4 linked regions of the Homo sapiens genome follow. Each later gene encodes a partner of the first gene's protein in a complex. Each region holds a gene or a part of one and is shown in the gene's direction. Other genes may lie near its edges.

Region 1 (7,431 bases):
AATTTTAAAAAGATAATTTTCTTTTGTAGCAAAAATAATATGTGTCCACGATAGAACATTTAGAAAATAGGAAAACGAAGAAAATATCACCCATAATCTCAATGCCAGGAATAACCACTAAGTGTATTTTCACGCCGGGTGTGGTGGCTCACGCCTGTAATCCCAGCACTTTGGGAGGCCGAGGCGGGTGGATCATGAGGTCAGGAGATCGAGATCATCCTGGCTAACACGGTGAAACCCCGTCTCTACTAAAAATACAAAAAATCAGCCGGGCGTGGTGGCGGGCGCCTGTAGTCCCAGCTACTCAGGAGGCTGAGGCAGGAGAATGGCTTCAACCTGGGAGGCAGAGCTTGCAGTGAGCCGAGATCGCGCCACTGCACTCCAGCGTGGGTGACAGAGCAAGACTCCGTCTCAAAAAATAAAAAAAGAAAAAAGAAGTATATTTTCACCTGAATCCTTTGGATATTCTTTTTTTCTACCATGAGTTGTCTGAGAACACACTATTTCAAGGTACTGTGTTTAACAAGGACCGAAGAGATTTAAAAGTTGAGTCCTTTCTCCTAAAGAGCCTACTGTCCAAAAAGAGGGTAAAACTAATACAAAAATACCTTTAAGAACTTACACTGGGCTGGGCGCGGTGCTCACACCTGTAATCCCTGCACTTTGAGAGGCCGAGGCGGGGGGATCACAAGGTCAGGAGAGCAAGACCATCCTGGCCAACATGGTGAAACCCCATCTCTACTAAAAAATACAAAAATTAGCTGGGCGTGGTCAGGTGCGTGCCTGTAAACCCAGCTACTCAGGAGGCTGAGGCACGAGAATCACTTGAACCCGGGAGGCAGAAGTTGCAGTGAGCCGAGATCGCGCCATTGCACTCCAGCCTGAAGACAGAGGAAGACTCTGTCTCCAAAAAAAAAAAAAAAAAAAAAAAACTTCATTGTGTTTGGCTGTTCTGGTGCAATGGAAAAAAATTTTTAAATATAGGTTAAATACTGGTCCAGTAACTCCCACTCCTTACTGTGCATCAGGATCATTTGAGTGCATTTTGTGGCTTGTGTGTGTGTGTTTTAAAACATTTGTGCCTTGGTCCCACCCCTAGAAATTCTGACACAGTAGTACAACTTTGTTGCATCTGGAGTAAGGTTTAGAAATCAGAGTATTTTTAAACTTCCGCAAGGTGATTTTAATGAGTCTCAGAGCTGAGAACCATTGAGCTAGATGGGTCATTTATTAAAATATTAGGAAACAGACTTGATGTATCATCGTAGATCTACCCTTAAGTCATGTGCTCCAAAACTCATGCATCGTTCTTTTTTTTTTTTTTTTTTTTTTAATTTATCACTGACTTGGAGCTCACAAAGCCCGTGCATCTAAGAAGAAAAGATGTAAAGGAAGCATATCAGCATATCAGTCTTTGTTGAAGTCTTCTTTATCTTAGTTCTAAAAGGATAGATAGGGAATGGAGGGCAGGGCCTCCGTGTTCAGTTGAGCAGTTTTTTGCACCACACAAAGGTGTCTGGCTGAGTGCTCAAGTGGGAGCTAAAAGCTCTTTTTCCTTCATCAAGCCTTACATGTGTGAGACTTCATCAGCCTATAAAAGGCAACTTTTTTCTCATTGGCACAAAGATACCATATGGACTAGGGATGGCCCTGAAAAATGGAAACACAGTTGTAGATGTTTATATTAAAAAAAATAGCAATAAGCTAATAAAATTCTGCTTTTTTAGCCCCTGTGCTACCGAATTTACTGCTTGTTAGCATTTGGTTGGCTAGATCTTTTAATGTTAATTAAGTATTGCCAGGATGTGGAGGAGGAAATACTGACAAGCTGTACTAGACCCACCCACATGCAGAACAAAAATAGCTCACACAGGAATTACTGATCTTGAGCTTCTTTAATCATTTTAACTTCTTATAGCAAGAAAGTGAACAGTTAGGTCAATTATGACCATCATTGATGGCCATTTTCAGTATCACATAGCAAAAATTGTTAGTATATATTGATTTTCTTTGTTGAACAATTTTTGCAAGATAGAGCTGCTTTTTTTTTTGCCAGCTAGTTTTCCAGCAAGAAAAATTTTGATTTACCACCAACTTCTTTTCATCTTTTCTTTTCTGTAGATAAACTATCTAATGGGGCAGAGAGGGAACCCGTTTGTGAACTATGAAAAATTAGCTTCACTAGTGTCCTCTTAATTTAGCTATTATTATTATTTCCATGAATGTCTGAGGAAAGAGGAAACATGGCCACTTTTGTAAGTCAGTTTGCCAACAGAGCTCGGCCCTTCTGAGCAAAGTGCAGTCCTCAGTGCACACAAATGATAAGTTTTAATACGTTTAATATGTTCATAATACGTTTAATACGTTGAAGATATACAGTTTGAGTTTAATTTGGTTCTTGCACAGCAGACCACTAATGACCATAAATATCTTTGTGTTTCTTTAAGAAAAGGACAAAGAACATGAGGGAAGCATAATATCATATATTTATATCTTGTAAAGACATGAATGAAGGTAAAAACCAAAGGGCAGAGATCTGAAAGTAGGTTTAATTCATGCCGTTGTGCCATTTACCTCAGCAATCAAGATCGGAACATTTCTTTGATACTTCCAATAACGCTCAGGTTTACAGAATGAGGACTCCAATAATAAAATGTTTATTTAATTGATTTACATATAAGCCTGGAGGCAGCCTAGTTTAGAGGAAAAAGTCTGGATTGTATCTGGCTCTTGGGACCTTAGGCAAGTCACTCAGTCCTCTGAACCTGTTTCGTCATCTTGAAAGTGGTGTTCTGAACACTTAGTTTGCAGTGTTGTATATATTAGAAAAGGGATGGTCTAGACTGGAAGAATATCTAAAATGTATCTGAAATGTAGGTGTTCAATAGATGGTTGCTATTTTCATGATTGCATGTCAATGACACCAGAAACTGAACAGTTTGTCAGAACCCTGGCACATGAAAGTATGGTAGGAGAAAAGAGAGAGCAAAGAAAGTGAACTCCAGCCCTGGTTTGTCTGTCCCTAGTGTTAGGGCTGAGAGATTCATGGATGGTCATTTATACCTTCATTCAACAAATGTTGAATGCCTGCTATGCGTTAAAAAAATTAGGCAAGGCCCTGCTCTCATGGTGCTCACATTCTAGAAAGGGGGACATAATTGCATGAATAAAATAATTTTGTTGATAAGTATAATGGATGATTAAACAGGGTGAGTGACAGTAATTTAGGGGTTTTTCAGATTGGAGGGACAAGGAAGACCTCTTTGGGAATGTGGCATTTGAACTGAAATCTGAATGAAGAGAAGGATAGAGGCATGGTGACCTGGGGAAAAGTAGTCCAAGCAGTGGGAACAGCAAATTCAAATGGCCCAAGTGGAAGAGACCTTGACAAGTATGAAGAACAAAAAGCAAGCTGTCTGGTGTGGCTGGAATTAGTAGAGAAGGCAGGAAACAGGAAATGAAGTCACACACACAAGACCAGATCCCAAAGGACTTTTTGCATTTTGTATACCATAGGCCTTCATGCCACTCTTGTGAGTCTGTGCTTCTCAATGTAGATACATTTTACTTCTTTCCTTTATATTTGTAATAAAGACATACTTTTAGAAGGGATGCAATGACAACTGTGAAAATGTATAGAGCTTATTGTGTAGACTGGTTGTCAGTTTGGTTTCTTTCCTTTGAAGGTAGCAATTCTCAGACATGTGCAGGTGTCAAAGAATCTGCACATTGCAGTGCTGTTTTTGGAACACCATAAAATATTGGAGTAGTCAGTTCTATCTCTGCACAGGGAAGAGATTTTCAGCAGAAAAATCTGACTATATATAGAGATAGATAAATAGATAGAGATTCCGATTTTTACATCACAAGTAACCACACAGTTTTTAAGTCTTCACTTCCAAGGTTTTATTTTTATTTTTATTTTTTTATTTTATTTTATTTTTTGAGACGGAGTCTCTCTCTGTCGCCCAGGCTGGAGTGCGGTGGTGTGATCTTGGCTCACTGCAGCCTCCGCCCTCTGGGTTCAAGCAGTTCTCCTGCCTCAGCCTCCCCAGTAGCTGGAATTACAGGCATCCACCACCACGCCTGGCTAATTTTTGTATTTTTAGTAGAGAGGGGGTTTCACCATTTTGGCCAGGCTGGTCTTGAACTCCTGACCTCAGGTGATCCGCCTGCCTCAGCCTCCCAAAGTGCTGATATTATAGGCGTGAGCCACTGCACACAGTCCAAGTTTTTTTAACTGGTGTTCATTTGCTAGTATTTTCTACCAGGCAAGCTAAGAAAATTATTTTTAAAAAAACTTTAAAATCTGAAAACAACACATGCATCAGCTTTTGTTCTTGGTGAATTTTCTGATTAATGTATTATGTTAGTAACAGAAGATCAGTGTGTTCCAGGAGTATAGTTTGAGATTCTCTAGTCTAAAGGGTCTAAAAGTGAAAGTTGGGTAAAAGAATAACAGGGAGGAAAGTTTTTGCTTCCAGTTTTTTATTTTTATCCAGCAGTAAAATTTTAGAAGACTGTAGGGAACCAAAGAGTGTAGGTTAGTTTTTACCTCTTCCATGGCCTAGGAATCACAGAAACCCTCATCAGAGGTTTGAGGGGACAGCGGTGGAATTCTGGGAAGCAGAATGCTTTAGCTGGTTGGTGGGAAGAAAATGGGAGACCAGTCTTCCCAGTGCTTCTCTGAGAAAAATGTTCCCAGAGAATTGGGTCAATAGATGATGCAAGTTCTTCACAGCTTCTAATCCCCTGTCTCCTGGAACCACATTGCTGTGCATGAGGACCACCAGCTTCTTACCTCAGAGGGTCTGCTTCCACCCTCTGCCTCAGAACATGGAAGCCATTATCAGTGGCTTAGAGCTGGCAAGACCCAGGTTCAGTGTGAGACCAAGGGGAGGAAAGAGTGGATAGCCGTCTCACCAGTTGGCATAGGTTGGAACTCAGAATTAATTTCACCATAGAAATTGTGCCCTAATAGTGATTAAGTGCTTTACCACTGTTAATATATTATTTCAGGTACTTTTATTTGAGGAGAGGGGAATGGTGAGGAAAACATAAATTGCCTGCAGTTAGAAACCATGTGCTTTGTTGACAAAATTTTGATCCTCTGTGTTGCCCCATTTTCAGATACTCTTTTTCATAAAATTGGGAAAAAATGGGAATAAATGAATATTAATTTTCTGCGGCAGTGAATAACTGATGCCATCTCAGTCCACTTGTGCATTAAAAAGAGAAACATTCTGTGGTTCCATGCTTCTCATCAATAGGGTCTTTTACAAACATGTTACTGTACGTGGCTGATTTCGTTTACTAGACAATTCTGAGGAAGGTATGAGTGCTTTTAGACTTGGCCACGTAGTAACTCCAATTTATCTAGATCACAAACAATAGGAAAGTTCAACAGTCTGGGAGTTTCCAAAGCCCTATACCATATAATGGTAACCTTTGAATCAGAGAAAAAAAGTTGTTATAGTTTGTGTTAAGTGACTTCTATTTTATTCGTGAAAATTGCTATGTATACCTTATATGGATAATATACCCTATATAGAAATGCCTGGATAAACATTGAAAGTGGCAGGGAAATTATTTTTAAAATTATTTGAAACAGGCCAACCTGGGAGGGATGAAGAGAACTGAAGAGTTACAAGGGGAGATGTCCTGGAAACTGGAGAACACTGCAAAAGGAATAAAGTTTATCCAGATGTATTGTTAAGTGAAACACATCAAAGGACAGTGTACCATGATCTGCCTTGTATTGAAACAAAACCATGTGTGTTTGTAAATGCGTAGAAGGCCTAGAAGGGTGGGGATTACTTCTGGAGAGTGTTAAAGGGACTCACTTTTTCCTTCCATCCTTTTGTTTTGTTTGAATTTTTATAGGGAGCAGGTATTACTTTTATAAACATTAAGAATTTAAAAATGTAAAAATTGTTAGAGACCAAGAGGAATAGTTTTGCCCCATTGAGGCTGACAGTCAGTGGGAAGTGTTATATGGCAAGAGTGTGATGTGGGACAGATATCAGTGGCCTCATCTAATTCCAGATTCCGGAGATCTCGGGAGCCAAGGCAGCAGGAAAAGCAGTTAGACTGTAGGAGGGACTTCAGTGACCTGGGCAGGTAGAGTTGGCGGCGGGAGGGGCCATGGAGAAATCAGAAACATCAGGAAGTAAAAGAAGGTGAATAGAAGACCCAGGGAGGCATAGGAGTAGTATAACGAATATGTATATTTTGGAGGAACCAGATAAGAACTGATATTTGAGTTGTTAGCTTTTTGAGGGACTGGCCAATCTCATTCATCTTTGTATCCTCTTTTGCCTACTTCAGTGACTTGCATGTAGTAGAAACCATTAAATGTTGAATGTTGTATGAGTTCGGCAAATCTGTACAGCCCTATGCTTTGGTCTCCTTTTATGACAGGAGGGTATTGTGTTAGATCCTTTCCAAGGACCTTTTTGGCTACATAGTCTTCTTCACCTGATTTCCATAAACCCCATACGTTAAATAATATATTCGTATGTGATTGTTTTACTAATGTGACTATATACAATACTTGGTGCAGTAGCCTTTTAAAGTAAAGAAACCTCAAAAGATTGGCTGATCCATACTAATAGTAGCGCCTTGGTACACACAAGTTTATAAATCTCTCTGCATTGAAAAGGCCCCAGAGAAAGTGGGACATAAACATCTTTAGTTTATAGGGTTCTGCAGGGAAAACTATAAGAGACACATAACATTTTTGTTCCCATAACCATCTGGAAAGATAATATCTTCATTATGTTCTCATTTCTGCTGAGGATCTTAAAGAATATCACATGAAATGCTGAAACTTTCATATTTGCAATAGAGATTGTAGAGCTGTCAGCATTTGAATGTCTCATTAGTGAGAGGAGAGGAAAGGCAAATTAACACTTTTTCTTTTTGACAGTTACATATTTTAAAGAAAAATGAGTAAAGGAAAAAGCAAGATTATTTTCATCAGAAGATGTTTTAATTGCCTTTTATATTGTCTTATTTAAATGCCATAATAGAGCCATAAATATGATATTAATAGATTATAAATATCTGCTTACATAAATAATATATCCTCTCTTCCTCCCTTCTATGAAGATTGAAAAGGCCAAACCTATTAAATGTGGAACATTTGGTGCAACATCTTTACAGCAGAGATATTTAGCTACTGGAGATTTTGGTGGAAACCTTCATATATGGTAAGATGATTTAGTCAGTATTCAGACAGATGAGATAGGCAATTTATTTGATAGTTTCATTACTCTTTCTCTGAAAGAGAGAATTTTAATTTTAAAATCTTTCTATGTTCCATTTTAACTATAAAAATATGAGAATTGTCTCTAATATATATTTCTAGATTTCATATTCAAAATCCATTAAAAAATACTAACCTATTTTTCTTTAGATATTTTGGATAAT
Region 2 (7,431 bases), on another chromosome or scaffold:
ACCCCTGACCTCAAGTGATTTGCCTGCTTCAGCCTCCCAAAGTGCTGGTATTACAGGTGGGAGCCACTACGCCCAGCCTGTTGTTTTTTTTTTTTCTTAATAGCTTTATTGAGATAGAATTCACGTACTACATAATTCACCCATTTAAAGTATACAGCTCAGTGTTTTCTAGTATATTCACAGACTTGTGCAGCCATTTCCACAGTCAATTTTAGAACATTGTCGTCACCCCAAAAAGAAACCCCATGCCTCTTACCTGTCACCGCTAATCCTTCCATACCTCCCATCTTCAGTTCTAGGCAGCCACTAATCTTTCTCTGTATATGGATTTGCCTATTGTGGCTACTTCATATAGATGGAATCATACCATATGTGTCTTTCGTGTGTGGCTTCTTTCAGTCAGTATAATGTTTTCAAAGTTCATCCACGTTGTAGCATGTATCAGAACTCCATTCCTGGCCGGGCGCGGTGGCTCACGCCTATAACCCCAACGCTTTGGGGTGCCAAGGCAGGTGGATCACCTGAGGTCAGGAGTTCAAGACCAGCCTGGCCAACATGGTGAAACCCCATCTCTACTAAAAAATACAAAAAAATATTAGCCAGGTGTGGTGGCGGACACCTGTAATCCCAGCTACTCGGGAGGCTGAGGCAGAAGAATCACTTGAACCCAGGAAGCAGAGGTTGTAGTGAGCCAAGATTGCGCCATTGCACTCCAGCCTAGGTGACAGAGTGAGACTATGTCTCAAAAAAAAAAAAAAAAGAAAAGAAAAAAGAACTCCATTCCTTTTTATGACTGAATAATATTCCTTTGCACAAATAGACCCTGTTTTATTTTGCCATTCATCAGCTGATGGACATGTGGGTTGTTTCTATCTTTTGGCTGTTGTGAATAGTGCTGCCGTGAACACTCGTGTCCATGTTTTGTGTGGACCTCTGGGGGGGTCCTGAATTGTCCCGGGTGGTGTTTACTCACCTCCCTCCCCCATGTGAGAAGGGGTGGTAGCTGGCTCCTCTCTGTGGAGAACTGTCAACATGGGAAGCCTCGGTATATTCTTGTTGAATGAGCTCAGCACTTTAGAGTATCACTTAGCAAACCACAGACATTGAGTCCCGAGGTGAACAAGAGAGAACAGGCCGTGCCCTTCATGGGACTCATGTCCACTGGAGCAGAGAATATTGATCCATCCATCTCCCTCGGGAATGTGAGATCACACAGGGAGATCGGGCTCCCAGGGAGGCCTTTCATCTGTCTGAATGTCTAGAGGTCCTAGAACTAGCCTGGCAGGGCTGTTGGACAGAAAGGGCCTCCCCTAGGGGGCAGCACTTGATCTAATTCAGTGAGAGGGCAGGGAGAGCAGTCTGGACTCAGGGGCCAGCATGTGCAAGGCCTGGTGGTTGAGAACTGGGGCCGCCTGGTACAAGGGATGCTGGGAAATTAGCAGGGGCCAGAGCATGTCCAGCTCCATGCCTGCTCCTCATTGGTGTCTGTCCTTATGGAGCTCACAGTTATTAGAAATGGGGAGGACTTGTCTGGGCACGGTGGTTCACACCTGTAATCCCAGCACTTTGGGAGGCCTTGGTGGGCAGATCACTTGAGGTCAGGAGTTCGAGACCAGCCTGGCCAACCCCAGTAGAGATGGGCGAAACCCCATCTCTATTAAAAATACAAAAAAAATTAGCCAAGTGTGGTGGTGTGCGCCTGTAGTCCCAGCTACTCAGGAGGCTGAGGCGGGAGAATCGGTTAAACCCAGGAGGCGGAGGTTGCAATGAGCTGAGATCGGGCCACTGCACTCCAACCTGGGCGACAGAGCAGACTCCGTCTCAAAAAATAAGAAAAAAAAAAAAGAAATGGGGAGGACTTAGCCGGGCACAGTGGCTCACGCCCATAATCCCAGCACTCTGGGAGGCCAAGGCTGGTGTATCACTTGAGGCCAGGAGTTTGAGACCAGCCTGGCCAACATGGCAAAACCCCATCTCTACTAAAAATACAAAAATTAGCCGGGTGTGTTGATGCGCGCCTGTAATCCCAGCTAGTCAGGAGGCTGAGGCAGAGAATTTCTTGAACCCAGGAGGCGGAGGTTGCAGTGAGCCGAGATTGGGCCACTGCACTCCAGCCTGGGTGACAGAGCGAGACTTCATCTCAAAAAAAAAAAAAGAAACAGGGAGGATTTCATTCATTCACCAAATAACCAAATATGTGCTGGACCCTGAGGACCAAGCTGTCGATGAGACAGACAGTCCTTGTCTTCCTGGGGCTCAACCAACCAGCCATTAGGCAGTGACAGGCAAGAGGGGTGGGGGTGACTGGTGCCTGTCCCATCGCCTGCCTGTGAGGGGAAGGAGTGGAAAGGACCATCTCATGGGAGGGACAGAGGAGGGGTTGGTGAAAGCTGGGACCACACTAGTCCTCTGACACATCTTCTTGCACCCCCAGACAGCCACAACCAAAGTCCCGGAGATCCGTGATGTAACAAGGATTGAGCGAATCGGTGAGTGAGTTGGGTCAGGAATAGGACCTAAGCCCTGCCTGCCATGTGCCCTGACAGAGCAAACCTATTGAGGACCCCTAAGATGGAGAGGGAGGTGGCCTGCACACCAACTGTGCCCCCACTACCATTCCCCCACTCGCCCTATCTAATGGGGGAGGAGGATCCTCAGTTCCAGAGTTGGGTCAGATGATGCACTGGGGACCAGGCTGCTATCCTGGCTATCCTGGTGGGGTTCCCGGGTATGTTTGCCTGGAAGTCATAGATATTTACTGGGTGCTTTACTGGGTTTGGCCTCGTATACCCAGTACACACTGTGGGGTGAGTTCCCTGAGGGCAGGGACGAGGTCGTGTCATTCCTAGCTGTGTCCCTAGCACAGGACCTAACAGAGCAGATGATCAAGAGATAACCATTGAATGCACGAGTTTGCGTCCTGTGGAGCCCTCGCAGTAGCCGCATGAGGTGCATATTGTAACTGTTAGCTGAGGGAACTGATTTTCAGGACAGCTAAATCACTGGCCCCGGCTCACACAGAGCAGGAAGTTGAGACGCAGTGAGGCCAGCAGGGTGCGCTCTCACAAAGAGCTTTACCGGCAGGGAAGTGACCGCATTCATTCATGCAGCAGGCTCACTGATTCAGGGCATCCGAGAAAGGCAGTAAGGGCTTCTGGCTGTGAAGATGGGTTTTAGAAGCCCAGTGCTGGATTCCTGGAGCTTAGCTCTGCCACTTTCCCACCATGTGGCCAGGGACTAGTTCCTCTCTGTGCCTCAGTTTCCTTATCTGCAAGACGAAGCTAAGATAGTTTACCTCATCAGTTAATGTAAGATTCAGTAAGGTAGTTCATATAAAGCATTTTGGGTCTGTGTGCCAACACTGTTTCATCTATTAAAAGTGCTGGGGCACTGGGTGCAGTGGCTCATGCCTGTAATTCCAGCACTTTGGAAGGCCAAGGTGGGCGGATCACCTGAGGTCAGGAATTTGAGACCAGCCTGGCCAACATGGTGAAACCTCGTCTCTACTAAAAATACAAAAATTTGCTGGGCGTGGTGGCGCGTGCCTGTAATCCCAGCTACTCGGGAGGCTGAGGCAGGAAAATTGCTTGAACGAGGAGGTGGAGGTTGCAGTGAGCCAAGATCATGCCATTGCACTCCAGCCTGGGTGACAAGAGTGAAACTCTGTCTCTCAATAAATAAATAAATAAAAGTGCCGAGACTGGGTGCTGTAGCTCACGCCTGTAATCCCAGCACTTTGGGAGGCCGAGGCGGGTGGATCACCTGAAGTCAGGAGTTTGAGACCAGCTTGGCCAACATGGTGAAACCCTGTCTCTACTAAAAATACAAAAATTAGCCAGGCATGGTGGTGCATGCCTATAGTCCCAGCTACTAGGGAGGATGGCTTGAACCTGGGAGGCAGAGGTTGCAGTGAGCCAATATCGTGCCACTGCACTCCAGCTTGGGTGACAGAGTGACTCCATCTCAAAAACAAACAAAAAGTGCCAAGTATGGCCGGGCATGATGGGTCACGCCTGTAATCCTAGCACTTTGAGAGGTGGAGTCAGGAGGATTGCTTGAATCAGGAGTTCAAGACCAGCCTGAGTCACATAGTGTGATCCTGTCTCTAAAAAAAAAATAAAAAAATTAGCCGGCAGTGGTGGTCCATGCCTGAGTCCCAGCTACTTGGGAGAACTGCTTGAACCAAGGAGGTTCAGGATGTGGTGAGATGTGACTGCACCATGCACTCCAGCCTGGGTGACAGAGTGAGACGCTCTCTCAAAAAATAAAAATAAAAACATTTTTTTTTTTTTTTGGAGACGGAGTCTCGCTCTGTCGCCCAGGCTGGAGTGCAGTGGCGCAATCTCGGCTCACTGCAAGCTCTGCCTCCCGGGTTCACGCCATTCTCCTGCCTCAGCCTCCCGAGTAGCTGGGACTACAGGCGCCCGCCACCATGCCCGGCTAATTTTTTTGCGTTTTTAGTAGAGATGGAGTTTCCCCGTGTTAGCCAGGATGGTCTCGATCTCCTGACCTCGTGATCCGCCCGCCTCGGCCTCCCAAAGTGCTGGAATTACAGGCATGAGCCACCGCGCCTGGCCAAAAAACAATAAAAAATTAAAAAAAAAAAAAAAGGATGAAGAGCCAAGCACCGCTTGTGAGCTGAGGACCCAGTAGAGACTAGCTGCACCCAGGAGCCTCCCTTGGGGTGCTCACAGTCAAGCACTGGGGTCAGCAAATCTTTCCTTATTTTATTTTATTTTTTTTTTTGAGACGGAGTCTCATTCTGTCCCCCAGGCTGGAGTGCAGTGGCGCAATCTTGGCTCACTGCAAGCTCCACCTCCCGGGTTCACACCATTCTCCTGTCAGCCTTCCGAGTAGCTGGGACTACAGGCGCCTGACACCACGGCCGTCTAATTTTTTATATTTTTAGTAGAGACGTGGTTTCACTGTGTTAGCCAGGATGGTGTCTATCTCCTGACCTCGTGATCCGCCTGCCTCGGCCTCCCAAAATGCTGGGATTACAGGCGTGAGCCACCACGCCTGGACCCTAGCAAATCTTTCTTAAAGGGTCAGATGGTAAATCCTTCCTCTGTTGAAACTACTCAACTCTCCTCTTGCAGTGCGAAGGCAGCCACAGACAGTATATAAATGGCAGTGTTCCAATACAAAGATTTTTTGGTTGGTTTTTTGTTGTTTTTTTTTTGAGATGGAGTCTCACTGTGTTGCCCAGGCTGGAGTGCAGTGGGGCGATCTCAGTTCACTGCAACCTCCACCTCCCTGGTTTAAGTGACTCTCATGCCTCAGCCTCCCGAGTATCTGAGACTACAGGTGCATGCCACCACGCCAGGCTAATTTTTGTATTTTTTAGTAGAGACGGGGTTTCACCATGTTGGCCAGGCTAGTCTCGAACTCCTGACCTCAGGTGATCTGCTTGCCTCTGCCTCCCGAAGTGCTGGGATTATAAGCGTGAGCCACCGTACCCAGCTCCAATAAAATTTTATTTGCAAAAACAGGTGGCTGGCCTCCAGGCTGAGGTTTGCTCAACCCTCATCTAATGTAAAGCATGGGAATCCCATCTTCCCCTCTCGCTGGCTGTGTGGCTGGGGCATGGGACCTAACCTCTCTGAGCTCCCTCCCCATTCATATCAATAGGTTCTGGGACTGTTGCCATTTTGATACTCAGAAGTGCTTTCAGGGTGATAGCAGCCAGGGCTCTTGTTTCATTTTATTTTGTTTTACTGAGACAGGTCTTGCTCTGTCATCCAGGCTAGAATGCAGTGGCACAATCTTGGCTCACTGCAACCTCCGCCTCCCAGGTTCAAGCAATTCTCCTGCCTCAGCCTCCTGAGAAGCTGGGATTACAGTCATCTGCCACCATGCCCAGCTAATTTTTGTATTTTTAGTAGAGACAGGGTTTCACCATGTTGGCCAGGCTGGTCTCGAACTCCTGACCTCCAGTGATCCGCCCGCCTCGGCCTCCCAAAGTGCTGGGATTATAGGCAGGAGCCACTGCGCCCGGCCCCAGCCAGGGCTCTTTTTTTGCAGGATCATATGGAATAAACTGAGAACATGTGGGTGCTGTGTAAACCATAAACATGAAGTAATTGTGATCATTAGCCCTTGTGGTTAGATCTTAGTACAATTATGTGCTTAATCAGGCCTCAGTGACTTTTGTTTAACTAGGATGCATCCTCAGAGCAGCTCCAGTTCATTGAGCATTTACCACATTCAGCCATCTTCCTAGGGAGGTGCCAATTTGGGATATCCTTTCCATGTGCCCCTTCATTCCCCCAACCCCTGCTCCCTACTCCCACCCACCCCTTTGACAAAGAAGGAAACCAGGGCTCAGAGGGGTCAGGCCACATGTGCAGCAAGCTGGCTAGTAACTGAGTCTTTGTTCTTTCCCTTCATGTAGGTGCCCACTCCCACATCCGGGGACTGGGGCTGGACGATGCCTTGGAGCCTCGGCAGGTAGAGCAGAGGAGGCTGGGGTGTGAGGGCCTCTCCATGAAGGTCTTGGGTAGTGGGTACCCAGGGTCCTGGGGAGTGTGGGGACTATGTTACGGTCTTCTGGACCTTTGGCTACATACCCATAAACTTCAACCACATGTGGGTTTTCTTGGTACTAAAGAATTGATTAGGCTAGGTGTGGTGGCTCATGCCTGTAATCTCAGCACTTTGGGAGGCCAAGGTGGGTGGATCACCTGAAGTCAGAGTCAAGACCAGCCTGACCAACATGGTGAAACCCTGTCTCTACTAAAAATACAAAAATTAGCCGGGCATGGTGGTGCATGCCTGTAATTCCAGCTACTCAAGAGCCTAAGGCAGGAGAATTGCTTGAACCTGGGAGGTGGAGGTTGCAATGAGCCGAGATTGTGCCACTGCCCTCCAGCCTGGGTGACATCTCGGAAAAAAAAAAAAAGAATTGGGAGTGGGTAGCAATTGCTTTGCCACCTTAAAAAAAAGTTAGACTGGGTGCAATGGCTCACACTTGTAATCCCAATACTTTGGGAGGCTGAGATGGGAAGATTGCTTGAGCCTAAGAGCTTGAGGCCAGCCTGGGTAACATAGTGACACCTCCTTTCTACAAAAAATTTTAAAAATTAGCTGGACATGGTGGTGCACATTTGTGGTCCCAGCTACTCAAGAGGCTGAGGTGGAAGGATCTCTTGATCCCTAGAGGTCAAGGCTACAGTGAGCCATGATTGTACCACTGTACTTCAGCCTGGGTGACAGAGCGAGATCTTGTCTCAAAAAAAAAAAAAAAAAAAAAAAAAGCAGGGAAAGCTTTTTTGGCTTTTCCTAGAAGTCCCAGCTAGTAATGTCTGCTTCCATCTCACTAGCTTCCTGATGTGGTAGAAATGCCATGGTAGCCCCACAGGAAATCACCTCATGTGCGCCTCCCACCCACAGGCTTCGCAAGGCATGGTGGGTCAGCTGGCGGCACGGCGG
Region 3 (7,431 bases), on another chromosome or scaffold:
ACATGGCGAAACCCCATCGCTACTAAAAATAAAAAAATTAGCCAGGTGTGGTGGCGGGCACCTGTAATCCTAGCTACCCAAGAGGCTGAGGCAGGGAGAATCGCTTGAATCCGGGAGGCAGAGGTTGCAGTGAGCCAAGATTACGCCATTGCACTCCAGCCTGGGCAAAGAGCGAGACTCTTGTCTCAAAAAACAAACACACAAAAAGTATGAATTGTTTATTTCTGGAATTTTCCATTTATTTTCAGACATTGGATAACTCTGGATAATGAGAGACTATTGTACATGAAACAGACTTTGTCTTCAAATTGCTTTACTCAGACTCATTTGAGAAAAGACAAACCAAACAATAAAGATTTATAGTGTGCTGCACAATCCCTTCATTATGGCAGCAGAGGAGAGACCCCTAACTAATCACGAGGTTGTAGGATTGTGGGGGTAGGGGCTGGATAAGGGAAGCTGTGGTATAGTAGGGTGGCTAAGAGCATTCTTATGCACTAGGGTCAGACCTAAGTTTGAATTTCATTTCTACTATTTACTATTTATATATGACCTCCCATGAGTTACATCTTGGCCTCCCCCATCTGTAGAAACATAACAATACCTACCTCATCACTGAATTTAGAGTATTAGGCAAGACAATGCATGCGAAGTGTTTTGCACAGTGATTAGAATATAGTGTGTGTTTAGTAAATGCTAGTTAGCTTTTGTTTTCTAGAGGAGAAAAATCCTTCAGCTCAATTCTAAAGGATGAGAGAAGTTAGTCAAGCAAAGAAGGAAGTGGAAGATTTTCTAGGTAGAGGGAATAAATGTGTTCCAAAACACTAAGGCGTGAAACTGCCTGGCATGTTTGGGATGCAGGTGGGACTTAATGTTTGAGGTGGATTACAGAACTTGAATATGGAGAAAAGGGGGTAAAAGAGGAATATAAGATGTCTCTCAGGTTTCTGTCTTTGGTGGATAATGGTGCCATAAGGAATGTAGGAAGACAGACAATTTTGGGGGAAATGTAAGTTTATTTTAGGATTTTGAGTTTAGGTTTCTTGTGGGACACCCAGGTTAAACATTCAGTAGACACTTTGATTTTTAAATCTTGAGATACAGTAAGAAATCTGAGTTGGAGATACAGATTTGAGAATTGAGTTTATGGATGATAAAGCCGTGGTTATGGATAAAAATGATCACTTTCCATAGTTTGTACAGAAAGTGAAAAAAGAAGTAGAACAAGAGTGGAACCACTGTTTTAGGGGAGCTAAAGAGAACCCCTCAAACTTCCCTCAGGAAACTGAGGAAGTGTGATAAGTGAGTTTTGAGGCTGTTCCTTGATTAACATTCTCTTGCCTTTGTTTATTCTGGAGAGAACACTGGGTAAAACATTACAAGATTTATCACTGCTGCAAATTTGAGCCACATATGTCCCTTACAAACAAGATGGAAGCAAATAACACATTGTGTTAGACACTTGTTTTACCTTCTGTTACTGACTGAGACAGGGTCTCATTCTGTTGCCCAGGCTGGAGTGCAGTGGTGCGATCACGGCTCACTGCAGCCTCAACCTCCCAAGGCTCAGGTGATCCTTCTACCTCAGCCTCCCAAGTTACTGGGACTACATGCGTGTGCCACCCTGCCCAGCTAATTTTTGTATTTCTTGTAGAGATGGAGTTTTGCCATGTTGCCCAGGCTGGTCTTGAACTCTTGGGCTCAAGCAGTCCACCTGCCTTGGCTTCCCAAAGTGCTAGGATTACAGGCATGAGCTGAGCCACCGCTCAGGCCTACCTTCTGTTATTCAATTACTGCCATTTGAAGTAGGTTGTGTTGTCCTCCATTTATAGGTGAGGACATTTTAATTTCAGAGGCTTTAGTTAACTTGCCCAAGGTCAGTAACTGGAAGAGCAGGATTTTTAAATGAGGGACTTAAGAATCAGGTATTTTTTTCACTTATGCCATGATTATGTTAGAGGTATTTGAGCAGAACCCTGAAGGAGTGGATGGATTTGAACAGGTAGCAGTGGGAATAGAAAGTAGGGAATATGATAAGAGGAGAGTAGTTGAATAAGGCCATAGAGGTCTTTGAGTGCATGCCAAAGAATTTATGACTTTTTAACATAAGCAGTGAGGAAGTCACAGAAGGATATATGTTATATTATTAATTGTTTAACTCTTATATAAAATAATACATTTATTGTCGGAACTGCAGAAAACAAAGGAAAAAGTTCAAACCAGGAAATAAATTGCCCATAATCCAACTATCCAGAGATAACTTTTCTTGCCATTTAGGAGTATATCCTTTGAGAGATTTTTTCCCCCCTCCTTTGTCTTTTTGTGTATATATGTGTGGATGGAAGGGGGAGCTTTTTTTTTTTTTTACATATTTTATAAAATTAGGATTATACTACAGTATGTACTGGTTTGTAATCTGTTTTTTAAGCCTAATAGTATATGTTGAACATTTTTCTATGTCATCTAAGTGTTAGGAAGATTAAATTAGCAGTGTGTAGGGTAGGTTTGGGGAGTCTAAAAATAGGATCATTTAGAAGACTATTGCAGTAATTCAGATAAGAATGTAATGAACATCTGAACTAGGGTTATGTCAGTGAGCCTAAGAGAAATTGCTAAACTAAGTGCAATACATTTGGCAGTTCATGGGATTATGGTATGTTCAAAGATGAACCTGGGTATGGTGGCAAGTGCCTGTAGTCCCAGCTACTCAGGAAGCTGAGACAGGAGGATCACTTGAGTCTGGGAGTTTGAAGCTATAGTGTGCTATAATTGTGCCTGTGAATAACCACTTTTCACCAGTCTGAGCAGCATAGGGAGACCCCATCTTTAAAAACAAAACAAAAGATGAAACTAAGGTTTCCTACCAGGAGGCCTAGAGTGATGTCAGTAGCAGAAATAGAAGAGATAAGATCACTTCAGCTTTGAACAACATGAGTTTAAGATATCCATGGGACATTTAGGTGGAGATGATCTGTAATAATAGCAGCTACTATTTATTGAAAACTTGTTATATGATAGATATTGTCCTAAGTTCTTGATGTAATTACTTAATCCTTACAACATTCTGTGAGGCAGGTATTATCTGTATTTTATTGGTGAAGAAACATCAGAAAAGAAGTAATTAATACTTATGCATTCTGTGAGACAGGTATTAATCTGTATTTTATTGGTGAAGAAACATTCAGAAAAGAAGTAACTTGTCATGGTCTGACGTTAAGCCATTTCTGTCAGGCACAAAAAAGCTCCTTCCTCTAACTTGTAAATGTGGGACTAGAATTTCTGAAAAGGCCTGGTTTTGCAGGCAAGTAGAATAAAGGCAATTGCTGGAACTATAGAAGTAGCTAAGAATGCCACTTGAAATAGTATAGGTTACCCTGATTTGATTATATGAATATATCAAATTATCACAATACCATGAAAATATGATTATGAATCAATAAAAAATAATTTCAAAAATAATGTAGGTAATGAAGAAGTGCTATGAATAGAATCTTAGATCCTGTGGCCATTGTGGGAGTGAAAGAGGAAGAACTTTCAGAAAGGAGAAAGAAGGAGGCTTGAGATAGGAAGGAGAACTGAAGGGACCTGGAAACCAAAGGGGAGTCGAAGATCTACATTGTATCGGGCACTTGACCTATTATCTCAGTTAGTTCTCATTGTTACCCTGTAGCAGTGATTCTCAACTGGCATTATCTTTTCCTAGGAGACATCTGGCAGTGTCTGGAGACATTTTTGGTTGTCACAAATCAAAGGGGTTGCTACTGACTTTTAGTGGGTATAGTCCAGGGATTTGTTAAACATCCTATAATGCCTGAGACAGCCCTCCTAGCAAAGAATGATTTGGCCTAACATGTCAGTAGTGACAATGTTGAGAAACCCTGCCCTGTGGTATATTATATTAAGTCCATTTTATAAATGAGGAAACAAGGAAAGTTAAGTGACTCAGTCATATAGCAAGTAAATGGCAAAACTGGGATTTCAACCCAGGTCAGAATAAGAAGTTTGGGTTCTTTCCACTTTACTATGTTGCTACTTGGATCCCAGTACTTGGGGAGGCTGAGGCAGGAGGATCTCTTGAAGCCACGAGTTTGAAACCAGCCTGGGCAACATAGTAAGACCCCCATCTCGGGCTGGGCGCAGTGGCTAACACCTGTAATCCCAGCACTTTGGGAGGCTGAGGCGGGCGGATCACAAGGTCAGGAGATTGAGACCATCCTGGCTAACATGGTGAAACCACATCTCTACTAAAAAATACAAAAAGTTAGCCGGGCGCATTGGCGGGCGCCTGTAGTCCCACCTACTCGGGAGGCTGAGGCAGGAGAATTGCTTGAACCTGGGAGGTGCAGGTTGCAGTGAGCCGATATCATGCCACTGCACTCCAGCCTGGGCGACAGAGCGAGACTCCATCTCAAAAAAAAAAAAAAGTCTCTACAAAAAAAAAAAAAAAATTTCATGAAGAGAAGGGATGAGTACTATTATTTGATGGAGTAATAAGGTCAAAGAAGTTTTCTTTGACAGAGAGTTGAGTATGTTCTTCAGAAAAGGGGGCACTGAACTGAAAAGAAGGTAATTAGTGGAGCAGTATCCCAGATCATGCTTTTCCAGGTTCATCCAATCATAACTCTCTACCTCTTCTATTCTTCTATTGAAACCAGTAAGAGTAAATGTCATGTAAGAAGACCCTAGGACATTTTGGAGAGAAAGGTAATGATTATAGATTTTTTCCTAAAATTATTAAAACTATATGGTAAACAAAAAAGAAAACAGGAATATAAATTTGCTTTGATAAGAAATTAATATTTGATAAGCCAGGAATAATATATTAACAGAGATTTTTAGAGTTAAGACAAACCTGGGTACAGGTATGATTTCTGCACTTCACTAGGTTATTTTATTTTTTATTTTTGGAGACGGAGCCTTGCTCTGTCACCCAGGCTGGAGTGCAGTGGTGTGGTGTTGGCTCATTGCAACCCCCGCCTCCCAGGTGCAAGCAATTCTTTTGCCTCAGCCTCCCGAGTAGCTGGGACTACAGGCATAAGCCACCATACCCGACTAATTTTTTGTATTTTTAGTAGAGATGGGGTTTCACCATGTTGGCCAGGCTGGTCTCGAACTCCTGAGCTCAAGTGGTCTGCCTGCCTCAGCCTGCCAAGGTAATAGGATTACAGGAGTGAGCTACTGCGCCCATCCCACACTATTTTGTTTTGTGTTTGTGAGACACAGTCTTGCTCTGTCACCCAGGCTGGAGTGTAATGGCACAATCTGGGTTCACTGCAACTTCCGCCTCCCAGGTTCAAGCGATTCTCCTGCCTCAGCCTCCCGAGTAACTGGGATTACAGGCACCCTCCCCCCACCACGCCCAGCTAATTTTTGTATTTTTATTAGGGATGGGGTTTCACCGTGTTGGCCAGGCTGATCTGGAACTCCTGGCCTCAAGTGATCTGCAGGGTTTCACCATGTTAGCCAGACTGGTCTCGAACTCCTGGCCTGAAGTGATCAGCCCACCTCTGCCTCCCAAAGTGTTGGGATTACAGGCGTGAGCCACCGTGCCTGGATCCACACTATGTTATTTTGACCACCACACAACACTCCACCAGCCTTGGTCTCCTTATTTACAAATTGAAGGTACAGGTCTTACCGTCTTTTTTGTTTTTTAGAATTAAATGAGATAGTCTAGCACAGTGCCTGGCATATAGTAGGTGTTCCTTTACTCTTGAGACTGTGGAAGGCAGATTATAGTAGGACTATGAAAGAAATAGATATTTTAAAATAGGTTGCATTTGCATATTTACAATTTTAAAAGAAGATAAAGAATAGAAGGCAGTCTGCATGGTGGAAAATAACACAATATAAATAGAAAAGATTTTGTCAAATTATTTAAGTAACTAATATGCATTTTTATATGAGCACATATAAAGGGTTAACATATGGGAATGGAAGATGGCCAGATTCTTCTGCTTCCCAGAAGAATCTAAGTTGAAACCTGAAGAAAGAACTAGACTTAAGCAGAGAAAAACTGAATGAGAGAGGTTTGGGAAAGTATACCAAACGTAGGGTGAAGATTCTATGCAGATGCCTGAAGACAGCTGTTAAGGGAAACTACCAGTGACTTAGGACACTGAGTGCTGAGTTAAGATGTGGAGGGAACAACTGATTGGGAGAGGTAAACTGGAACCCGGTCTTTATATGACTTTTTGAGGAGTTCAGATTTTATCCTGTGAGCATTGAGAAGGTTTTAGGCAAAGGAATAATTGGTTAGATTTATATTTTTGGTCACTTATGCTGCAGTGTGGGGAGTAGATTAAAGGGGGCAAATCAGGAGGCAGTATAGAAATCAGGAGGGTATAATAAGTAGTACACATGTAATTAATTTGATGTGGATAGTGAATCAAGGATGATTCCAAGGTTTCTGGAGTTACATTCCAACTCTAAAAATTATTAAAGTAACAAAAATAATAAAAGTTACCATTAGGGCTCTGGGGAAAGAGAAGAGATATAATCATGATATTGCTGGTAGCAGTATAAATTAATCTGGTCATCTTGGAGAGCTTTCTAGCGACATGCAGTGGAAGCTATAATAATGCTAATGCCTTTTTGACTCATTGATCTTACTTTGGAATACGATTCAAGAAATTCAAGAAAAGTGGCTGTAAATCGTGCATTATTTGTCCAGAGGTTTTTTTTGTTTTTTGTTTTTTTTTTTGAGATGGAGTCTCACTCTATTGCCCAGGCTGGAGTGCAGTGGCGCAGTCTCAGCTCACTGCATCCTCTATGTCCTGGGTTCAAGTGATTCTCCTTTTTTTTTTTTTTGAGACGGAGTTTCGGTCTTGTGCCCAGGCTGGAGTGTAATGGTGCGATCTTGGCTCACCGCAACCTCTGTCGCCCAGGTTCAAGCGATTCTCCTGCCTCAGCCTTCTGAGTAGCTGGGATTACAGACATGTGCCACCATACCCAGTTAATTTTTTGGTATTATTTTTAGTAGAGACAGGGTTGCACCATGTCAGCCAGGCTGGTCTTGAACTCCTGACCTCAAATGATCTGCTGGCCTTGGCCTCCCAAAGTGGTGGGATTATAGGGGTGAGCCACCACACCCAGCCTTGTTTTTTTTTTTTTTTTAATTTTTATTTTTGTTTTTGTTTTTGTTTTTTTTTTTGAGACAGAGTCTCGCTCTGTTGCCTAGGTTGGAGTGCAGTGGTGTGATCTCAGCTCACTGCAACGTCTGCCTCCTGGGTTCAAGCGATTCTTTTGCCTCAGCCTCCCAAGTAGCTGGGACTACAGGCACACGCCACCACATCCAGCTAATTTTTTGTATTTTTAGTAGAGATGGGGTTTCACCATGTTGGCCAGGCTGGTCTCGAACTCCTGACCTCAGGTGATCCGCCCGCTTTGGCCTCCCAAAGTGCTGGGATTACAGGTGTGAGCCAGCACGCC
Region 4 (7,498 bases), about 120 Mb from region 1:
AATTCTATATAATATTAATAGAAGAAATAACATTAATTCTACAAAAACTCTTCCAAAACATAGAAAGGAAGTATTAAAATAATAAATCGGAAGGCCATTACACTGAAGCAGCTCTAGAGCTGAGTGCCTACCTAAACAAACCAAAAGCTAAAAGGTTATATTCTAGGTAAACAGAACTTAGCTTAACCAATCAGAAACCAACAACTAACCTCTAACTAGGGATTTTCCAATGGAATGATCCAAATAAGGCTACTGGTCCACTTTAACCAATCAAATATTTTCTTTGCCTTGCATCCATATTTGAATCTTTGGGAAAGAGGTGGACAGTGGCACTCATATGGAATAGTTCTAGAAGAAGCCAAGATAATTTCGATTAACCTTCTTTATAGCTGTCAGACTATGTGAAGATACAACAGGCATGGGCAGCATATAAAACATCTTTCATTGGTGACATTCACAAACCACACTGACCTCTAGATTGTAAAACAGAACTACCAACAATGAAATTTTCAAATCCAACTGGCAGGAGAGCAGTGGATTGGAAAGAAGACGAATATGCTTAGATGAGGCATGTGAGGCACCTGGGCAGAAAATTTAAAGAGCACTTACTGCAGGACCTGAGAGTCAGTGCATCTTCAAATTTGCACCCTACCACACTCACCACATCCTGTTTCAGCCCTGCACAAGAGCTCCAAAGTGAAGTTGGCTGCAAGCGTCAGGGAGGCCTGATGTCCGCATTCCACAGCTTTGAAGCAAAGCTTGAGAACCAGCCTTATCTCAAGTAAAAAGGATTTACTAATCTCTAGACCAGTACTTGGAAACTCTGCCATTTCCCTTGAGAGACCAAGACCAGCCTGATGTGCTTTGTTACTAGGGCGACAAAGCATTCTCCCTGCGTTCTCCCTGCAAAGAGTTTATGGTAAGGATCCAGTAGTTCCTTTCCCAGATCCTAGAGCCTTGTGGAAAACATCAGTCCAATATCTCAGGCCCTGTCACCTTCTGGCAGAATTATTGATATAAATCACCTATTTAGACTGTGATATTACCTCTCCTTTGACTTCACCCCCTTGGTCCTACAGCCTACCTTACTTCCCCCTCTCCAACCCCCTCCCCCCACCGGCAATTACCAGCACTGTCTACTTGCTGAGATTTCCCTTTGGTCTGCTAGTCTACGCCTCTTAGAAGAGTCTGTAGTTGAGTCTGTCTCCTTTCAAATGACTTCCAGTCTGTCCTACCCATCAGAGTTAACAGAACCATCCAATCACTGTGACAACCAACAGTACCTCCAAACATTTTTTCAAGCATCAGCTAGGGAAACCCCTAGCTCTGTTGAGAATCACTGGAAGAGAAGACATAGTTTCCAGTTGTATGGTGGGCTGCAGATGGGCAGTCCTGAGCCAGTTAGGCATGACACATGGTACTAGCTAACCCCAAAGCTGACTTCAAGCAATGCAGAAGTTAGAGCAGCTGAAGGAGGAAATAGAAGCAAATAGATAAATATTTTTTAAATAAGACAAAGTGTGAAAGCACTTTTAAGACAGTTTAGCACCATACTAAAATTATTATCACCACTTTGTTTAGTACTATTTTGTTTAGTACTATGTTGTCTTGGGCAGCCCTTGTGAATAAACAAAAACATCAGAACCTGGCAGAGCCGTAAGCAACAGCCCACTTCCCAAAACGGGGTGAACAGCTGTAGACCAATCAGCGGTGTTGGGTGTTTCCGGCTACTCGATGTGGACATGATTGTGAGTCAGAACCAATTCAAACTTTAACCAGAGCTCCCACTCTGCCAGACACTATAATAGAAGGTGGGGTACAAAGAAGACCAATAGGCTAGGATGCTCAGTCTCATCAGCTTTACAGATAAGCCTCACTATTACCTCTAAACAAAGTGGAAGCCAGTCCTGGCAGCGCACACCTATAACCCCAGCATTTTGGAAGGCTGAGGCGGGCAGATAGCTGGAAGCCAGGACTTTGAGACCAGCCTGGCCAACATACTGAAACCCCATCTCTACTAAAAATACAAAAATCAGCCGGGCATGGTGGCACACACTTGTAATCCCAGGTACTTGGGAAGCTGAGGCAGGAGAATAGCTTGAATCCAGAAGGCAGAGGTTGCAGTGAGCAGAGATCGCACCACTGCACTCCAGCCAGGGCAACAGAGAAAGACTGTGTCTCAAAATAACAACAACAACAAAGTGAAGTGATACTTCACTTTGGAGCTCTCTTTTTCCTAAACTTGGATTCTTAAAATGTTTCTAAGCTAGCAGTTTTGTAAGAACTTTTTTCCTTAAAAATCTGGCACATTTAAAGTATTGGAAATTCTGGGCTTTTAAAAATATTGGGATTATACCAGTGCTTATTTTTCTCTATAAACTAGTCAGAACAGAGGCCCTTTAATTAGAGATACTATAGTGGGATTTATTAATACACTCCAGAAGTAGGGAAATATTTCATATTTACAAAGGGAGACATAAAGCCTGTTCTAAGTTACAGACACACAGACACATAAAGAGGTTATTGCTTCTGTCTTACAACTTCAATCTCAGGTCAAAAGTAAACACAAAACCACAAAAATTCACCAGTTCTTCTGCTTGAGCGGCCTTTATGTTAAAACAAACAAACAAAACCTTACTAGCCCACATCTCAAATAGCTGTCCTCCTTCCCTCTCAGTGGACACAAAAGTAATTAATTAATTTGAGCTCACAAACAATAAACAAAAAGACTTACAAACTCGCTTCTCTGTCACCTCTCTTATTTATTTATTTGAACCCCTGGCCTCAAGTAATCCTCCCACCTCAGCCCCGAGTGGTTGCGATTACAGGTTTGAGCCACTGCACCTATCTACCTCTCTACCAATGAGACTAGACGTCCATCATCCAACAGATACCACCAAATGGTTAGACCACAAAACCAAACTCCCAATCATTGCTGCTATCAATGTATCAGTAATGTATAAGTTATACCTGAATAACTTATCAGGAATGTACAAATCAGAAATGAAAACACAATCTTTAAAAATCAATTATAAAGGAAAAATATATAACCACTTGGGTTTTCTGTAAGAGCAAATAAAAAACATGCCTGGCCTTAAACAACCCATGATGTATACATTTCTTTCGCCAGATAGTTTGATTCATCACATAAATCCAGTTGGGCATCTCTGTGGAAACTTAAGATTTCCAATAATATAGTATAATTATCAAAAACCTAAAATCATGTCTCTAATGTGAACATAAAATATATACATGTCAAACTTTTATTCAACTCATTGGTTAGTGAGGGAACCGATGACTTTAAAACCAATACAGAATATTAGAGAAGCTAGGCATATGTTAATAAAGAAATGTTAGGACAGAATGCAGGGTTAGATACAAAACTGACTAATGTGTTGCAGAACAATAAATCATAACCTGTGTTGGTATCTGGTACAACAAAAAATTATTTGCATCTCTACCAAACCAAAATCTCTACCAAAGTTAACCTTTGCCCCTACAGAATTGTAAAACAGCCCAGTCAATATAATAAAGTCAAGTCCAGAGCAGCACTGAAAGAGCATCCAGTAAATAAATCTCTTTTGCCTATTTCCAAGTTTTAGTCATTTTTTCCACAGAAATGAGATATTGCAAATATTGCACGGGACATAGATGCACTAAAAAACTATTAATTCATCTGAAGTTCATACTGTATTTTATCCGGCAACCCTAACCACGAGTTAACCAAAACTTTACCAAGTCTGTACAGTTCTTTTGCCAACACGGTATCTCTTAAATCTGTTCCTTAGCTTCATCTTTCCCTAGATAATAAATATCATATTAAGCGCTGTTTCTATTGCACGACTATTCTTCATATTTACCACTGGAGGGCGCACAGAACTCGTAGTATACTAGATAAGAGGTCATGAAGAAACCACCTGAGCGTTTCTGCATCTCAACCACAAGAGGCCAGTACAGGAACCTCAGATTTTGCAACCAGACTGTTTACTCGCTCCCTAAGCAGCCATGCGCAGGCGCGAAACTCCTCCCCAGGCCAGACCCGGCCTGCGCATGCGTTCAAGTGAGCGCGCAGACGCTATTGGTAAGACTCGCGGGAAAAGAAAGGGTGAGCGCGGCTGGAAGCGCGCATGCGCTGTGGCTAATGCCGTAGGCTCCTTCAGGGCTGAGCCATCCCGCGTGTCTTGCGCTCGGTGGAAATGCCCAGCCGAGGGACGCGACCAGAGGACAGCTCTGTGCTGATCCCCACCGACAATTCGACCCCACACAAGGAGGATCTAAGCAGCAAGGTGAGTGTGAGACGCGACGAAAAGGCTCCTGGACTCGGGACCGGGCGCCACTGGACCCTGAAGGTGGTCCGCAGCGGGCAGCGTGGGGCCTGCCTGGGCCTCGGCTTTGCCCTGCTACTTTGCTCTTTTTATTCATAGCACTTGACAGCCACAGTTAGTCCTTTTATTTTCTGAAAACAGTTGCGAAAAGGGAGATCTTGAAATTTGTCCCGAGACTGGACCCAGGTGACAGTGGGGCGGAGTTTTGGTTGGGTGTTTTCCTCCCTAGTCTTTTTAAACTTTTGGAAATACCGCCCACCCCAAATCTGTTCCATCAAAGATATTCTCCATCCAGTTAACCATGCCAGCAACCCGGGGTCCATCCTTGACCCCCATCATGGAAGCCTATCAGTTCTACCTTTGAAGCTCATTTCAAATATGTCCCTTTATCACCGTGAACACTCTTACCACCCCAAATAAGCCACCGTCATCTGCTATCGGGACCCCTGCCCCCGGCAAGGCCTTCCTAAGCGGTCTCTCCTCATCCACCTGTTAGCTGCTGCTTCTCCGTTAACCAGAGCAATGGTCCTAAAACACGCATTGGGTTGTCACTCATACCAAACTGGGGGAGAGAGGAAGCCAATATAATATAAGCCTTAACTGCCATAAACAAACAACCTTTAAAGATAAATGGGGGTGGCGAGGGTTATAGCCCTTCAGGTATTACATGTCCTAGATTCTACTTTGGTTCTGTCCCAAACTTACAATGACATCTTGGGCAAGTCTCTTTAATCTTTCTGTATCAGTTACCTTCTTTGAAGTAAAGTGAAATGTACACCTGTCATTCCTAAAATGGGAAAGCCCTGTATAAATGTTAAGTCTCAAAGAATGTTTACAAATTTGGCCTTGGAATTCAACCTCATTACTACAGCTCTGCCAACGGGGGAGACAGAAAGGTGCACATTCATGGGGATTGGGGGTGAATTTTCAAAAGACACACAGCCCATTCTGATTACCACCATAGCAAGCCACTTACGCATACTGGTGGTTACAGATCCCTGAGGTGTGTGTGAGGTAGCACAAATATGATAAAAGCTGCTTTTAGAGGCTCTTGTGATACTATGTAATCAGTCATGTTCACAAAATAAATAGAGTTAAAAAGAAACTTAGTTTTCACTTAGTTGAGCCCTCCCCTACAAATAAATGAAGCCCAGGCCAGCATGGTGGCCCAGGCCTGTAGTCCCAGCTACTCGGAGGCTAAGGTGTGAGAATCGCCTGAGCCCGGGAAGATCAAAGCTGCAGTGAGCCGTGATCGCACCACTGCACTCCAGCCTGGGTAACAGAGCAAGACCCTGTTTCAAAAAAAAAAAAAAAAAAAAAGCCCAGTTCAACAGTGCCAGCTCTATGCTAGTCATTGAGATAAAAAGAGGGAAAAATACCAAGATGGAACATGATAGGTCTTACTGTCCCCAAATAGGGCATTGCTTGATTTGAATGTTTGACTGCAGCACTTAGTACATAAAATCATGAAAATATTGAAAAAAGTAACCCACCCCTCATTCAATTTGCTTTTTTTTAAATCTAAATCACAACTTAATTTTCAATCTAAATCACAACTTAATTCCTTTTGGTGTATATCATATATATATATTTTTTAAATTATTTATTTATTTATTTTTTTGAGACGGAGTTTCACTCTTGTTGCCCAGGCTAGAGTGCAGTGGTGCAATCTTGGCTCACTGCAGCCTCCGCCTCCCGGGTTCAAGCAGTTCTCCTGCCTCAGCCTCCCGAATAGCTGGGATTACAGGCATGTGCCACTACGCTTGGCTAATTTTGTATTTTTAGTAGAGATGGGGTGTCTGCATGTTGGTCAGGCTGGTCTCGAACTCCCGACTTCAGGTGATCCGCCCGCCTTGGCCTCCCGAAGTGCTGGGATTACAGGCATGAGCCACCGCACCCGGCCTGGTGTATATCATATATTTTTAACAAAAGGTATAAACCTTGTTTAGTAACTGTAGTCCTTGGCATGATTGCTGGTTATGAACACGAAAATCCCTGTCTGGTCTTAATGGGTTACCTAACATTTTGCAAGTCTAATCACTGTTTTTTCTCCTCCAGCTTTTCCTGAACTGTACCCCCACACAGAGACTCCTGTTGAAAATGATCTGTATATTCACAAACTGCCCGTTTGGAAAACCAGTACATCATAGCCCCTTATCCCATCTCTAATTTTAAAACAACCCCTTAAGGGATTTTCATTGAGCATACTTTGAAAACATCTGACTTAAGGAGTTTTTCTTTATTTCAATAGATTAAAGAACAAAAAATTGTGGTGGATGAACTTTCTAACCTTAAGAAGAATAGGGTGAGTTATTATAGGAATTCTGAATAATATGTGGGAGGTTTATTTATGTTAACTATATATTAAAGTTATAAGAAGTATATATAAGATTTAATCATACTTTAATAAAATGTATAGTATTTCAGCATCTTTTAAAATTGCAAGTGTCTAGATTCTTTTTTTAAATGGATAGATCTCATAGCTGAAGATGTCTTTTTTCTATCATATGCCATTCACATTGCCTTTGCAACAAATGATACTAGTTGTATTTTGGTATCTTGGAGCTATAATCACTAATGATGTTTTATACCTGAATTTGATGTTTTCTTTTGATATAAACGAACTTTATATTGAGATGAGAAGAAACTTTTCTTTTAAATGAATGTGGATAATTATTGAACAAAAAAGGATACATTGCTTCCCCTCCCTCCAAAAAATTTTTACATAGATTTTCCTAAATGTGTAACATGGTTATTTAATGCCATTTCCATTAATATGTTACAAACAAGTAAGCTACTGCTTTGTGTATGGTTATAGTGTCAAATTGCATTTTAACATTCAGGAAGAAATGAGTTTGAGCTCTTAAAAGCTTTGTAAAGATTATGTAATAACTGGCTGGTTAGATATTTCTGATATTGTCACTTATGGAATATTAGAAGTTGAGGCACATACAAAAATTAGCCAGGCGTGTGCCTGTAATCCCAGCTACTCAGGAGGCCGAGGCACAAGAATCGCTTGAACCTGGGAGGCAGAGGTTGCAGTGAGCTGAGCACACCACTGCACTCCAGCCTAGGCTACAGAGCAGGACTCCTTCTCAAAAAAAAAAAAAAGAAGTTGAGGCAGAATTAATACAGACTTTCTCTAGAGGGCAAATTGGCAAAAAGTCTCAACA

Evidence for each region.
Region 2: DNAAF10 (region 1) and RUVBL2 share a complex: the UniProt entries of both Homo sapiens proteins name them as parts of the PAQosome complex.
Region 3: DNAAF10 (region 1) and PFDN2 share a complex: the UniProt entries of both Homo sapiens proteins name them as parts of the PAQosome complex.
Region 4: DNAAF10 (region 1) and ASDURF share a complex: the UniProt entries of both Homo sapiens proteins name them as parts of the PAQosome complex.

Annotation. Positions count from the first base shown.
Region 1 is NC_000002.12:68,147,247-68,154,677, reverse strand, and holds part of DNAAF10 (dynein axonemal assembly factor 10), read left to right. Parts: intron 1-7,110; coding exon 7,111-7,211; intron 7,212-7,431. UniProt on the Homo sapiens protein: Key assembly factor specifically required for the stability of axonemal dynein heavy chains in cytoplasm.
Region 2 is NC_000019.10:48,996,885-49,004,315, forward strand, and holds part of RUVBL2 (ruvB-like 2), read left to right. Parts: intron 1-2,434; coding exon 2,435-2,489; intron 2,490-6,394; coding exon 6,395-6,450; intron 6,451-7,322; exon of another isoform or gene 7,323-7,371; coding exon of another isoform or gene 7,372-7,392; coding exon 7,393-7,431. UniProt on the Homo sapiens protein: Possesses single-stranded DNA-stimulated ATPase and ATP-dependent DNA helicase (5' to 3') activity; hexamerization is thought to be critical for ATP hydrolysis and adjacent subunits in the ring-like structure contribute to the ATPase activity.
Region 3 is NC_000001.11:161,107,837-161,115,267, reverse strand, and holds part of PFDN2 (prefoldin subunit 2), read left to right. Parts: intron 1-4,655; exon of another isoform or gene 4,656-4,704; intron 4,705-7,431. UniProt on the Homo sapiens protein: Binds specifically to cytosolic chaperonin (c-CPN) and transfers target proteins to it. Binds to nascent polypeptide chain and promotes folding in an environment in which there are many competing pathways for nonnative proteins.
Region 4 is NC_000002.12:189,657,325-189,664,822, forward strand, and holds the start of ASDURF (ASDURF protein), read left to right. Parts: upstream 1-4,134; 5' UTR 4,135-4,196; coding exon 4,197-4,286; intron 4,287-6,576; coding exon 6,577-6,630; intron 6,631-7,498.